2 separate regions of the Homo sapiens genome follow, and region 2 is linked to region 1. The links come from fine-mapping of genetic effects on gene expression. A gene starts in region 1. The other region holds a variant in brackets. All regions are shown on one strand. Distances are from middle to middle. Region 1 holds the start of KCNK9 (potassium two pore domain channel subfamily K member 9). Region 2 overlaps KCNK9 (potassium two pore domain channel subfamily K member 9).

Evidence for each region. PIP is the estimated chance that this variant, and not a neighbour inherited with it, causes the effect.
Region 2: its variant is the best candidate, but not a certain one, in a credible set for the expression of KCNK9 in cerebellum (GTEx, PIP 0.69).

Annotation. Positions count from the first base shown.
Region 1 is chr8:139,699,896-139,705,259 of GRCh38, reverse strand. It overlaps KCNK9 (potassium two pore domain channel subfamily K member 9), which reads left to right and starts at 2,137. Exons shown (of 2, transcript NM_001282534.2): 1 at 2,137-2,550. The coding sequence starts at 2,268. RefSeq lists a silencer at 2,120-2,414.
Region 2 is chr8:139,620,283-139,625,646 of GRCh38, reverse strand. The region is part of intron 1 of KCNK9 (potassium two pore domain channel subfamily K member 9); the gene reads left to right. Among named protein-coding and RNA genes, the nearest start is that of KCNK9, 80 kb to the left of the region's middle. The variant C/G (reference allele first, on the strand shown) is at 2,202.

The sequences.
Region 1 (5,364 bases):
GCCGAAGGTCAAGGAAAAGCCCCTCGATAGCCTAAAGGGAGAGGGCGGGGAGGGGGAGGAGGTAAAGGAGGCCAAAATGGGAAGGAGATAAAGCCTGGAGAGGGCTCATCTGGAAGCAGGGAATAGGTGCGCCCCAGCCCGAGCCTCGTGTTCCTACCCCAGGTGGTCTCGAGGGGGCTATCGCGTGGCTCAGGGCTGCATCCACGGCGCACCTTGCGCCCAGCTGTGGGGAACCAAAGAGTGATTATATATATCAAAGAGTGATTATATATATATATATATATATATATATGTGTGTGTGTGTGTGTGTGTGTGTGTGTGTGTGTGTGTGTGTGTATTTTTTTTTTTTCCTTCAGTAAAGCAACAGAGAGGTTACTGGGTCGGGGGATTGCGATGTCTTTCCCCGCTGTCCTGACTCCAAAAGTGGCGGCCCATGCTGTCCTTAGCGCTCTCCAGGGAAACGACTCGGGTCTGCAGGTGCTGGCCCAAGCGGGCTGTGCCGCTGGGAGGCGAGGGGGCCGAGGCAGCCCTCGGGACCCCACCACTCCACGAGGCCATGTCCCTGGCCAATGACACGCTCCCGCGCCGGGTGGCTAGGTGGGGGGTGGGGGGTGGGGAAGACTTCGTGAACCGCTGCTGCCGCTCTCCTGTGTGCCCATGGCCCCCTCCCCTTCTGCTCCCCACTCTCTGCCCAATCTGCCTGAAGCTGTCAGCCTGCCATCTCTGGCTGAATCCCGTTTTCCTCCTCCAACCCCGAGTCCCTCAAACTCTCCACCCGCCAGGGCTGCTTGCGCTCTTGGGGAGCGGGGCTAGAAGGACCCAAGAAGCCGCGTTTATCCTCCCATCCCCCGCCAAAACCCGCCGGCGGCTCCGCCCCCGCCCCCTCCCTGGCGGCTCAGGCCGCCCCTCCCGGGCTCCCTCCGCGTGCGCCCTGCGCCGCGCTGGGTCTGCAGCGGGAGCTGCCACAGCAGCCTCGCCAGCTGGCTGGGGACCAGGCGGGAGGTGGCGCGCCCTGGAGGCTGCGGGAGGGAGGGAGGGAGGGAGGCCCGGCCTCGGCGTAGCCCGGCCCCCGCTCCCCGAGGCCCTCCCGCCGGAGCGGGGCTGCCAAGCGCACACACACACACACACACACACGCACATACACACGCGCACACACACATTCGGGCTCCCAACGGCGCGCACGCACGTAGCGCCCGGGGCAGACCAGCGCGGCGGCCGCCTCCCGGGACGCCCGGACGCCGGAGGGCCCCGACCCCCGCGCGGCTCATGCGCCCGCGTCCGCCCCGCTGCTCCGCGAGGCCCGCGGGACCCCTCCCGCCGCCGCCGCCGCGCCCGCCGCCCCCGGAGGAGCGGGCTGGCCGACCGCCACCGCGCCGTCCCCCGGCCGCCCCCGAAGCCGCTCCATCGCGGTCCCTGCCGTCCTGGGGCCGCGCCCCGCTCCCGCGCCTTGGGGGTTGAGCCGAGCAAACTTCGCGCACCGGCCGACGCCCGGCGGGGACCCCGCTGCGCACCCGCGCGCCCGGGTGGGCGCTGGGCGCGCGGACCTTTGGGGAGCGGGCTGCCCCTCCCGCTGCACCTGCTCGGCCCCCTCCCCGCTTGCAGGGGACTCCAGAGACACCGCCACTTCGCAAACTTTTCCTCCCCACCACCGAGAGGGGGCGAGGAGGGGTAAAAGGGGAAGCAGGTTCCGCTGGGCGCGCGGACCTGCAGGCTCCTTGCTGGGCACCGCCACCCGCGAGCTGGACCCACAGGGGTACCGGGCCCCGCGGCCGCCCTCCGGCCGCTTTCTGGCTCCGGTTCCCGTCCCTGCGTTTCCCGCGGGAGCGGGGGGCGGGGTGCGGAGGGCAGCAAGGCCCGCGCGGTACCCAGCGGGGCCGCCCTGCATGGCCCTGCGCAGTGGGGCGGGCTGCTTCGGCCGGGTCTGGCGCAGGGTGTCGGGGTTCCCGGACGCCTGGCCCCGGCGCTCGAGCAGCCTCCTGTGCCTGTCCGCCTTCTCGGCTGAGCCCGGGCCCGCGCCGCCCCTGCCCCGCCAGCCGCCTCGCGGTGGCGGTGGCTGTGGCGGCCCCAGCGGAGGGGGCCCCCCCCAGCCTCCCCGCCCCCCGCCTCCCCGCTGCTGCTGCTGCTGCTGCCGCCGCCGCTTACAACTTGGAGGCGGCGGCGGCGGCGGCGGAGGAGGAGGCGGCGGCGGCCGCCGGGCGCTGCAGTGGGACGCGCGCGGCTGTGAGCCTGCGGGACATGCCCCCCGCGCCGGCTCCTTGCTGGCGGCCATGAAGAGGCAGAACGTGCGGACTCTGTCCCTCATCGTCTGCACCTTCACCTACCTGCTGGTGGGCGCCGCCGTGTTCGACGCCCTCGAGTCGGACCACGAGATGCGCGAGGAGGAGAAACTCAAAGCCGAGGAGATCCGGATCAAGGGGAAGTACAACATCAGCAGCGAGGACTACCGGCAGCTGGAGCTGGTGATCCTGCAGTCGGAACCGCACCGCGCCGGCGTCCAGTGGAAATTCGCCGGCTCCTTCTACTTTGCGATCACGGTCATCACCACCATAGGTAAGGGCTGGGCGCGCCGCTGGGCTCCCGCGCCCCGGGAGGAGTCCGGGGAGGCGGCTGAGCGCGCCGCGCCGGGCTGGGTGCAGGGCGTCGAGGGTTAAACGCAGCCTCCCTTGGGGGCCTTCCCGCAGCGCCCCCTCCTCTCTAGGGAGCCCCCCCTCCGCGGCGCCTCCGAGCCTCACCCTTCGGGGACCCCACCCGGTGCTCTCCACCGCGCTGGTGTCTGGGCCGGGCGTGCGAGCCCCGAGCGAGTGTGCCTGAGCCGGGAGGGCGGAGGCGCCACTTTTGCGAAGAGAGTGGAGCGCTAAGAATAATCCCATAGCAGACACCCACCCACCCACCGCCCCGGCGCGGGCTGGGCTGCGCGGGGCTCTGAGCCTTACACTTACTACCTCTCTGGGAGTTGGAGAGGGCTGGCCTGGCACCCATGGCTCCTAGAGGGACTCAGGTGGCAGGGGAGTGCGCCTGGGGCGTGAGAGGCACTGACCCTCCGTAGCCCCTGGGCCCCGCTCCAGGCTTCTCTGAGCTCAGATTTCATCTCTCTTCCCCCCGCCCGGCTCCTTTTTTCCCCTGAGTTCCAGTTCTGGAGCTTGGACTTCCCAGGCCCCTGGGAGGAGAGAGTTTGCTCTCTGGTGCTTGCGTTGGGGGTGGCAGCCCCTCAATTGCTCTCAGTAGAGGTGGAGAGTGGGGGCAGGGCAGAACCTGCCCACTCCCTAGGCTGTGACACTGGGAAAGGCCAGTCTAGACATTGCCCAGAAACCAGGGAACTTGAGCCCCAGTCACGAGAGGGGGTCCAGCTGGTAAACTGCAGGGATGCCCGCCAGCCCCACTGCCAAGGGCGCTATTCACAGAGCAGGGTCTCTGGTCGGTCCCGAGGGCAGTGTCCCCTCTAAGGCTGGGGGCTGGGAGGACTCCCGGACGTTATACTTGGAGACCTGTGGGAGCTGGGGCAGGTACCTTCATTCGGGTGGACGTGGTGGATACCCTGCATGGCAGGAGGCAGGGTGGTGTCTCTGTGGTTCACTTGCCCCAGTGAGGCAGGCTGCCTCTCTAGGGCCATCTCCTTGGACTTGCCAAGGCCAGTGTGTTAGTGGGGGTGGTCTGTTTCCTGCACCCCTCAGGGCTTCACACCCCTGTGCCCTGGGCAGGGACCTCCTCCTTCCCCCCTCCCTTCTTCCCAGCTCCTCCTGTCTCGCTTCTCTGGACCTCCTCCTCTAATTTCCCTCTTGATATTTTTCTTTGTCTGGAAATCTCTGCATACTGAAAAAAAAAGGATTTCTCAGTGCCATATGCAACAGGAAGCGCCAGCACAGGACGGCCTGTCTTTCCTTCTTGGTTGAAAATACTTTTTAGAGAGTCATCTTGTTTTAAATGTTTAATTCATTGGTGCAGGTTTTTCTGTTTGTGAAGGAAATTGTCCTTCTGTTATCTACATAATCAGCTTGGCTCTTGCTTGCCCCACGCCCTTTGCCCAGCACCCCAAACACAGATGACTCCTTCCCTTCCCACACTGTGTTTCCAGCTTCTGAGAGGGCCAGTCATTGCCATTTTCTCTGGCTTTAAACTGTGGCAGTGGCACGCAGATGCACAGGGCAGTGATTCTGGGAGACAGGGGCCTGTTTGCTGGAGAGCTGGAGAGTAAGAAATATGCCTCTGAAACTGGCCACCCCTGGGGAAAGGAGAAAGCCCCAAGGCCCTTAAACATGCCTTTAGGGTTGAAGATGGAAGACAGGTGAATTTGGCTAGCATGCTGGCTTCCAGTAGTAAAACAGGCACATAAAATGCTTGGCTGATCCCGAGAGTTGAGCGACAACATCGAGGAGAGGATTGGTGTTAAAAGCAAACTCTGAAATGTGCCAGTTTTCCTTAAGAAATGCATTGTGGAGACTGATGAAGTTCTTACTGAGGTGTGTTTCCATGGTTGATTCTGATTGGTAGCTCTGGGTGTATGCCTGTAACGGTTAAAACTCCAAAGAGAAGCTGTCAAGGGAAGTGTAGCTAAATGGAGGGTGTCGGCTTCGCCTCAGGGGCTGTGGGACTTGTATGAATAAGGGACCAGAGGCCATCTGAGGAATTCGCTGATTTTCCTCGCTTCCTTCTTTGGGCTTTCCACTGATTTTCTGGAAAGAAAGGTTGGGAAAAAAATGTGTGTGTGTGTGTGTGTGCGCGCGTGTGTGTGTGTGTGTGTGCGCGCGCGCGCGTGTGTGTGTGTGTGTGTGTGTGTATGTGTATGTGAATAAAAGACAGCTCTAACACTAACACAGCTGTCCTGTTGTGGAAAGATGTTCAACTTGGAACCCACAGACCTGGCTTGGAATCTGAATTCGGCCATAGTGTAAAGACCAGAGAGAGGTCATTTCCCAACTCCTGACCTCAGTTTCCCCACCTGCAGAAGAGATGTCTCACAATAACTACCTGACAGGCTGACTTTTAAGGTCCAGCTGAGATCCCGCGGGCTGCAGCTGCCAGGCACAGTGTGGCCGGCACTTAGTAGGAACGGAATCCACGCTCTTGGACGAAGCCTGATCGAGCCTCCGCTCTCTGCCCTAAGAAGCTGTTTAGCACAAGAGTTCAAATTTACAGGAAACAAAGCACCTTTCCAGTTAATTCTGTTTGTTTTTTTTTCTTTTTTTAATATAAATGCAAATTAAGATGCTCCTAGGCCTAGAACAAAACCCGGCCCCAAGCCTCGCCCTCCAAGGATTTGTCTCCTATTGGGCAGTGATATTAATGAGTCAGGTTAATCTTCATTGGCGTTTTGATTTTTAATCTAACCTTGAGCTATTTCTTGAGCATGCTTTAACTTTTTGCCCA
Region 2 (5,364 bases), 80 kb after region 1:
CCACTAAGTATATTAAAGAGGCCATGAAAATCAGGCTGGGTGATGCTGTGTCTTGGGCAAAGCTGCCCCCAGCCACCTTGGGCCCTGGGCTTAGGGATTGGCTGGGATTTCCAGGCAGGCCTGGGAAGATGGAAGTCACTTGCACAGCAAGGAGATACCATGTGCTGCCTTCTCCTCCATGCTGGGCTCTGGGATCTGCACAGCTGAGTCAGGAGTGGGCTCTGCTCTCCTCGGGAGCTCACGGTCTGGCCCAAGGTGACCCAGGCTGTGACTACCCAGCAGGGCCAGTCAGGGTCTGGATAGGTGAGGAGTACAGCCTGTGGGTGCTGTCCTGGGAGCCCCCAGCCTTCCACCAGGGTCCGGGGCTGGGAGAGGCACCTAGTAACCGGCTAAGAAGGCCCTGTGGAAGCAGGCAGGCTGTCAGTTCCCTTGGGCCCAGACGTCCTTGGCTACAGATCCACATGGGCACTTGGGGGCTGGAAGGTCTGACCCCCAAGGGCTGCACGCCAGCCTGAGGTGGGGCTCGGCTCAGAGGCTGCATGGCCCAGCTCTCGGTGAGGGGACCCATGAATTTGGCCAGTTCTGGGAGGGGCCAGGTGAGGGGGCTGATTCTCATTGTGCTCTGATGCACATCATCTGCCCCATTTCACAGATGAGGAAGTAGAGGGGTCCTCCCAGGGTGCTCAGGAGTCATAGTGCACAGCGCAGAGTCTGCTCAGGAGTCACAGTGCCCAGGACAGAGTCAGCTTTTCCAAGTGGGCTTTGACATTTTTACAATGACTGTCCCCTTTCCAGATCTGTAGGGCAGGAACCCCGTCACCGGCCTGCCCTGTCGAGTTGGGCATCACCGGCCCCCGGGTGTCAGTTGCCTCTGACTGTGGAGGTGGGCCGGGTGAACTGGAGGTTCTCTTCTAGGGCTGGCTTCACTTAGCAGGTGACCTAGGATGCTCCAGACCCCTGGGTGGGGCTGCCACTCGAGGGGTTGGTTCCATGTGCTGGGACATGGGGCTGGGCTGAGCTGGGGGTTTTCCTGGATCTCCTTCACCACTCACATCTACCCACCCTGCCTGGTCCTGGGCACTACCACCTGTTGGCAAAGCTGAGCAGGCCAGGGGAGGGCAGGTGGGTGGGCAGAGCAGGACCCTGGAGCCTAAAGCACTGAGTGATGCAGGGGCCAGCCGGGCTGAGAAAGCTGGGACAGCCACTCAACTGGAACCGACTGTAAGCTCCCTCCAGGGTCCCTGAACATGCCGGCATCCTGGAATCTTGGGAAGGATGGTGTTGGGGATGCTGCTGCTGTGTGAGCAGTGCTGGAAACCAAATTTCAGGCTGTCAGTGCTGTCTGTCACCAGCACCACTATGGTTAACCTCACACCCAGAGGCCTGACTCCGTGTGACCATCTGGACCGGTACCAGGTCCCAAAGGCAGGCGTGTCTAACTCAGCATCCCCCTAGATGTCAGCAAAACAGGCGGTGAAGCTCTGGAGATGAGCAGCGTGGGCTGGCTGCGTCCCTTGTGTGCAGGGGCTTTGTACCCTGTGTGTGGTCTTTGCATTCCTCAGTTGGTGGGGCTCTGGCTTAGGGCCCTGCTGTTGGCTGGGTGCCTGTAGGGGGTGCCAGGCATCGGGTTAGGTAAGGATGATGTGGCCTCTTGCGGGGCGGTTGTGGGTTGGCAACCCTCCTGCAGCCTCATCTTACACGTCTGTGAAGTGGTTCGAGTGACTGAGGCTGCTTGGCTAGATCTCACCCGCAGTCGGAGGCGCCCCTCTGGGAGTCCTGGTTTCATTATCTCTACCTTTAGTGCCCTGTGTGTCCCTCCTGAATTTTGTGCAGATCCATTTCAGAAGTCTCATTGCCAAAGGGATAAGTGACCCCTTTATGATGAGGGAAGCGTGGCCAGTGGTGGGTGGGACTTCTGAGATTCTGCCACCTCTGTGGTCCTCAGAGATGGAGAAGGTCACCACCCTGTAGTGCCTGGAGGGTAGGGGGAGGGGGCGGTAGGGTATTGTAGGAGCCTGGAGTCCTAGAGGGAAAATCCACCTGGGCATGTGTGGTTCCTGAGCTCACAGGTGGGGTAGGAGGTAACCAGGAACAGACAGCCTAGGGGTCACCTGTGGCCTTTCCACATCCATGCCCCAGCCTCTATCCGCACCTGCTCGTGTTGGGCACTGGGCAGGGCTCCTGGTACAGGCTGGCTGGAG[C/G]CCCTTGGGAGATTTCCAGGAAAGAAGTGTTTGTGGAATCCCCTGTGCCAAGAGCAGGTCCCAGGGCACAGTCAATGGAGATATCTGAATGGGTAATGTATGAGTAGATGAATGAATATATCTTCTGACCCCTGGGCGGGTGATGCTGGGATATGTTCATTTGCAGATGGGAAAAAAATGGTTTCTCAGGACTTGAGCTGTCACACAGGTGCTGGGGGAATGTATTAGATTTGTACCTCATTCTCCTCTTGGGAAGAGCTTAGAGGCCATCTTGTGTCACGTGTCCAGCATACATGCATTTTCTATGTTCTTTATTGTATCTTCTACATACAATCTGTAGACATGGTGTGTACTACTAAAACGTGCAGTCTGCAGCATATACATAGGTGTGGCACATACACAGCCTGTGTCATGTGTGTTCTACAGGCGCACACACTGCATAGACAATATTTGCTGGTGAATATGGGTGCGCTGTAGTTATATGTGCCTCTTGGTCTAATCTATCTGTATATAGTGTGCTACTATGTCACATGTGCCGTTATTCTACACATTAGGTTCCAAGTGTACACTGTGTGTACTCTGAAGTCTTCATAGATGCCATGTATGTGTGTTCTGTACAGGTATTTGGGAACATCTGACATGTGGACTTAATATTCGCAGGCCTGTTTGTACACAGTACCTGCAGTGTTCTATCATAAGCACATTTGTTAAGCAGACCAGGGGAAAACAGATAGTGTAACAGGGTCTCTGCAGGAAATAGCACTCTCACACTGAATGATTAATAAATGGGCTATTTATAAATTCTTCTCGAACACGTAGGCAGGTTTGGGGGGAAGCAATGAGGGGTATGTGGAGCACCAGTGGAGAGCTATTAACATGCCAAGGGTGCAGTTCCTGGAACTTGTAGAGAGTAGCTGCTGTAAGCCCGCTGACAGATGCGGCTAGTTGCCGAAGTCGCCCTCCTCTTCCCTTCCTCTGATCTACTGGGGCTGTCCATTGGATGGACCCAACTGGAAACCAGAGGGCAAAGGGACCCTTGATGTAGCTCCCAGGGTAGAGAGCAGGGTGTGGCTGGGAACGCCTAAATAGGACAGTGGAGGATACCCTGTACCACCTTCTTTTTCCTAGAAGGCCTTGGGAGTCCCGAAACTTGTCTCTCACTTGAGAGGGAATGGTCCTGTTCCCCAGACCACTGGGACCACAGGAAATGTGTTAATGGGGAAGACCCCTGAACCTCAGCGCTGTTCATCTCCCATACTCTCTCATGCACGTGTCTTACCAAGGGATGTCCTCGATGCAGTGGACCAGTGAGAAACACTATGGTGTGTCAATGATCAAGTTCTTTCATGCTGTAGTAAGACGGCAGGAGAATTGACATAAGCCTGAGACAGGACATACCAGTGTACTGCTGTCTAAGCCCCGTGAAGGCAAACTGCTTATTTTTACTAGCAGGAACAGAAGTCAGGGTGGGGGACCCTGGCACCTGGTATGCAGTTTTTGACCCAGAAAATGCCATGGTGATTTCTTCCAGTAAATATATCACATGTGGAACATTACCACTTAATAAGAAGTTTCCAACAACCTCCTGTTATTCTCCAGCATTCCAGCTGGCTTTTTTTGTATCAGCTCTACAGGTGAGCTATATGGAGATATAGTAGGATTCCCACCCCTGCATCTTTTATATTTACCCTACTTGTTTGCCAAGATGTGCCTTCTTTCCTGAAGACTTAAGTTTCCATATGGTGTCCTTCTCCCCAGACAGAGCAGCCTTCAGTAATCTTATTGTGTAGATATGCTGGTAATGAACTCTCTTATAGTTTTACTTCATTTGAAAATGTCTTTGTTTTGCCTTTCTTGAAGGATAATTTCTCTGGATATGGAATTTTCAGTGAGCAGTCTTAGTTCTTTACAGCCGTGCTTCCACTGCTTCCTGGCCTCTGTTGCTTATGTTTAGATGTAAGCAATATTATATTATTGTTCCCCTGTATGTGGTATATTATTTCTCTCTGGCTACTTTCATTATCTTCTCTGACTTTAAGCAGCTTGACTCTGGCGTGTGGTTTTCTTTGTATTTGTCCTGCCTGGGGTTCACTGAATTTCTTGAATCTATAAGTTTGTGTCTTTCATCAAATTTGGCTATTTTTTTTTTTTTTTTGAGATGGAGTCTCGCTCTGTCACCCAGGTTGGAGTGCAGTGGCACAATCATGGCTCATTGCAACCTCCACCACCTGGGTTCAAGTGATTCTCCTGCCTCAGCCTCCTGTGTAGTTAGGGCTACAGGTGTGTGCCACCACACCTGGCTAATTTTTGTATTTTTACAAAATTAGTAGAGATGGGGTTTCACCATGTTGGCCAGGCTGGTCTCAAACTCCTGGCCTCAAGTGATCCATCTGCCTTGGCCTCCCAAAGTGCTGGGATTACAGGTGTGAAGCACTGCACCCAACCTAAATTTGGCTACTTTTGGCCATTATTTCTTCTTTTTGTCTGATTCTCTTTCCTTCTGGGACACCTTTTGATATTGCCCTACAGCTCCCCCCAGGCTTTATTTTCAATCTTCTTTATTCCTCTCTGCTCTTCAGATTGGATAATTTCAATTGATATATCTATTATTTCAGCTTCTCTGTTTCCCCACCCTGTCCTTTCTGGCCTAACTTTGTCATATCATCTCTTCTTTCATAAGGACTAAGGGGTTTCAGAGGGGTGTCAGAGCTCAGCGCTAGCTGGGATTGAGGGCCAGAGAGGATGGGGGGAAGGCCTTCTGGAGGCAAACATGTGATGTCATTTTTCAAGTGAGAGTTTGGCCCATGGGGGTAGGTAGGTTATGGCACATATTCACACCACCGGAGACAGACAGACTGAGCCACAGGCAATGAAGCCCTGATGGAGAAGTGTGAGCTAGAGCCGTCAGAGGCAGCTTCATGCAGGAAGGAGCGGCAGAGGATCCTGGGGTCTGGTAGGTCCCTACTGTGTATCAGACTCTTGGCTCGGAGCTGTCTGATCTCGGCGGATCCATACAACGCCACCTAAGAACAATTATGCCATGTAACAGATAAAGACACATGGGTTTGAAAAAACTTATGGAACCCAAGGTAAAGCAGCAAGCTAAGTGACCATGAACATGTGACAGGGTCCCATCAGGGAAATCTATCTTGATGGGCAGGAT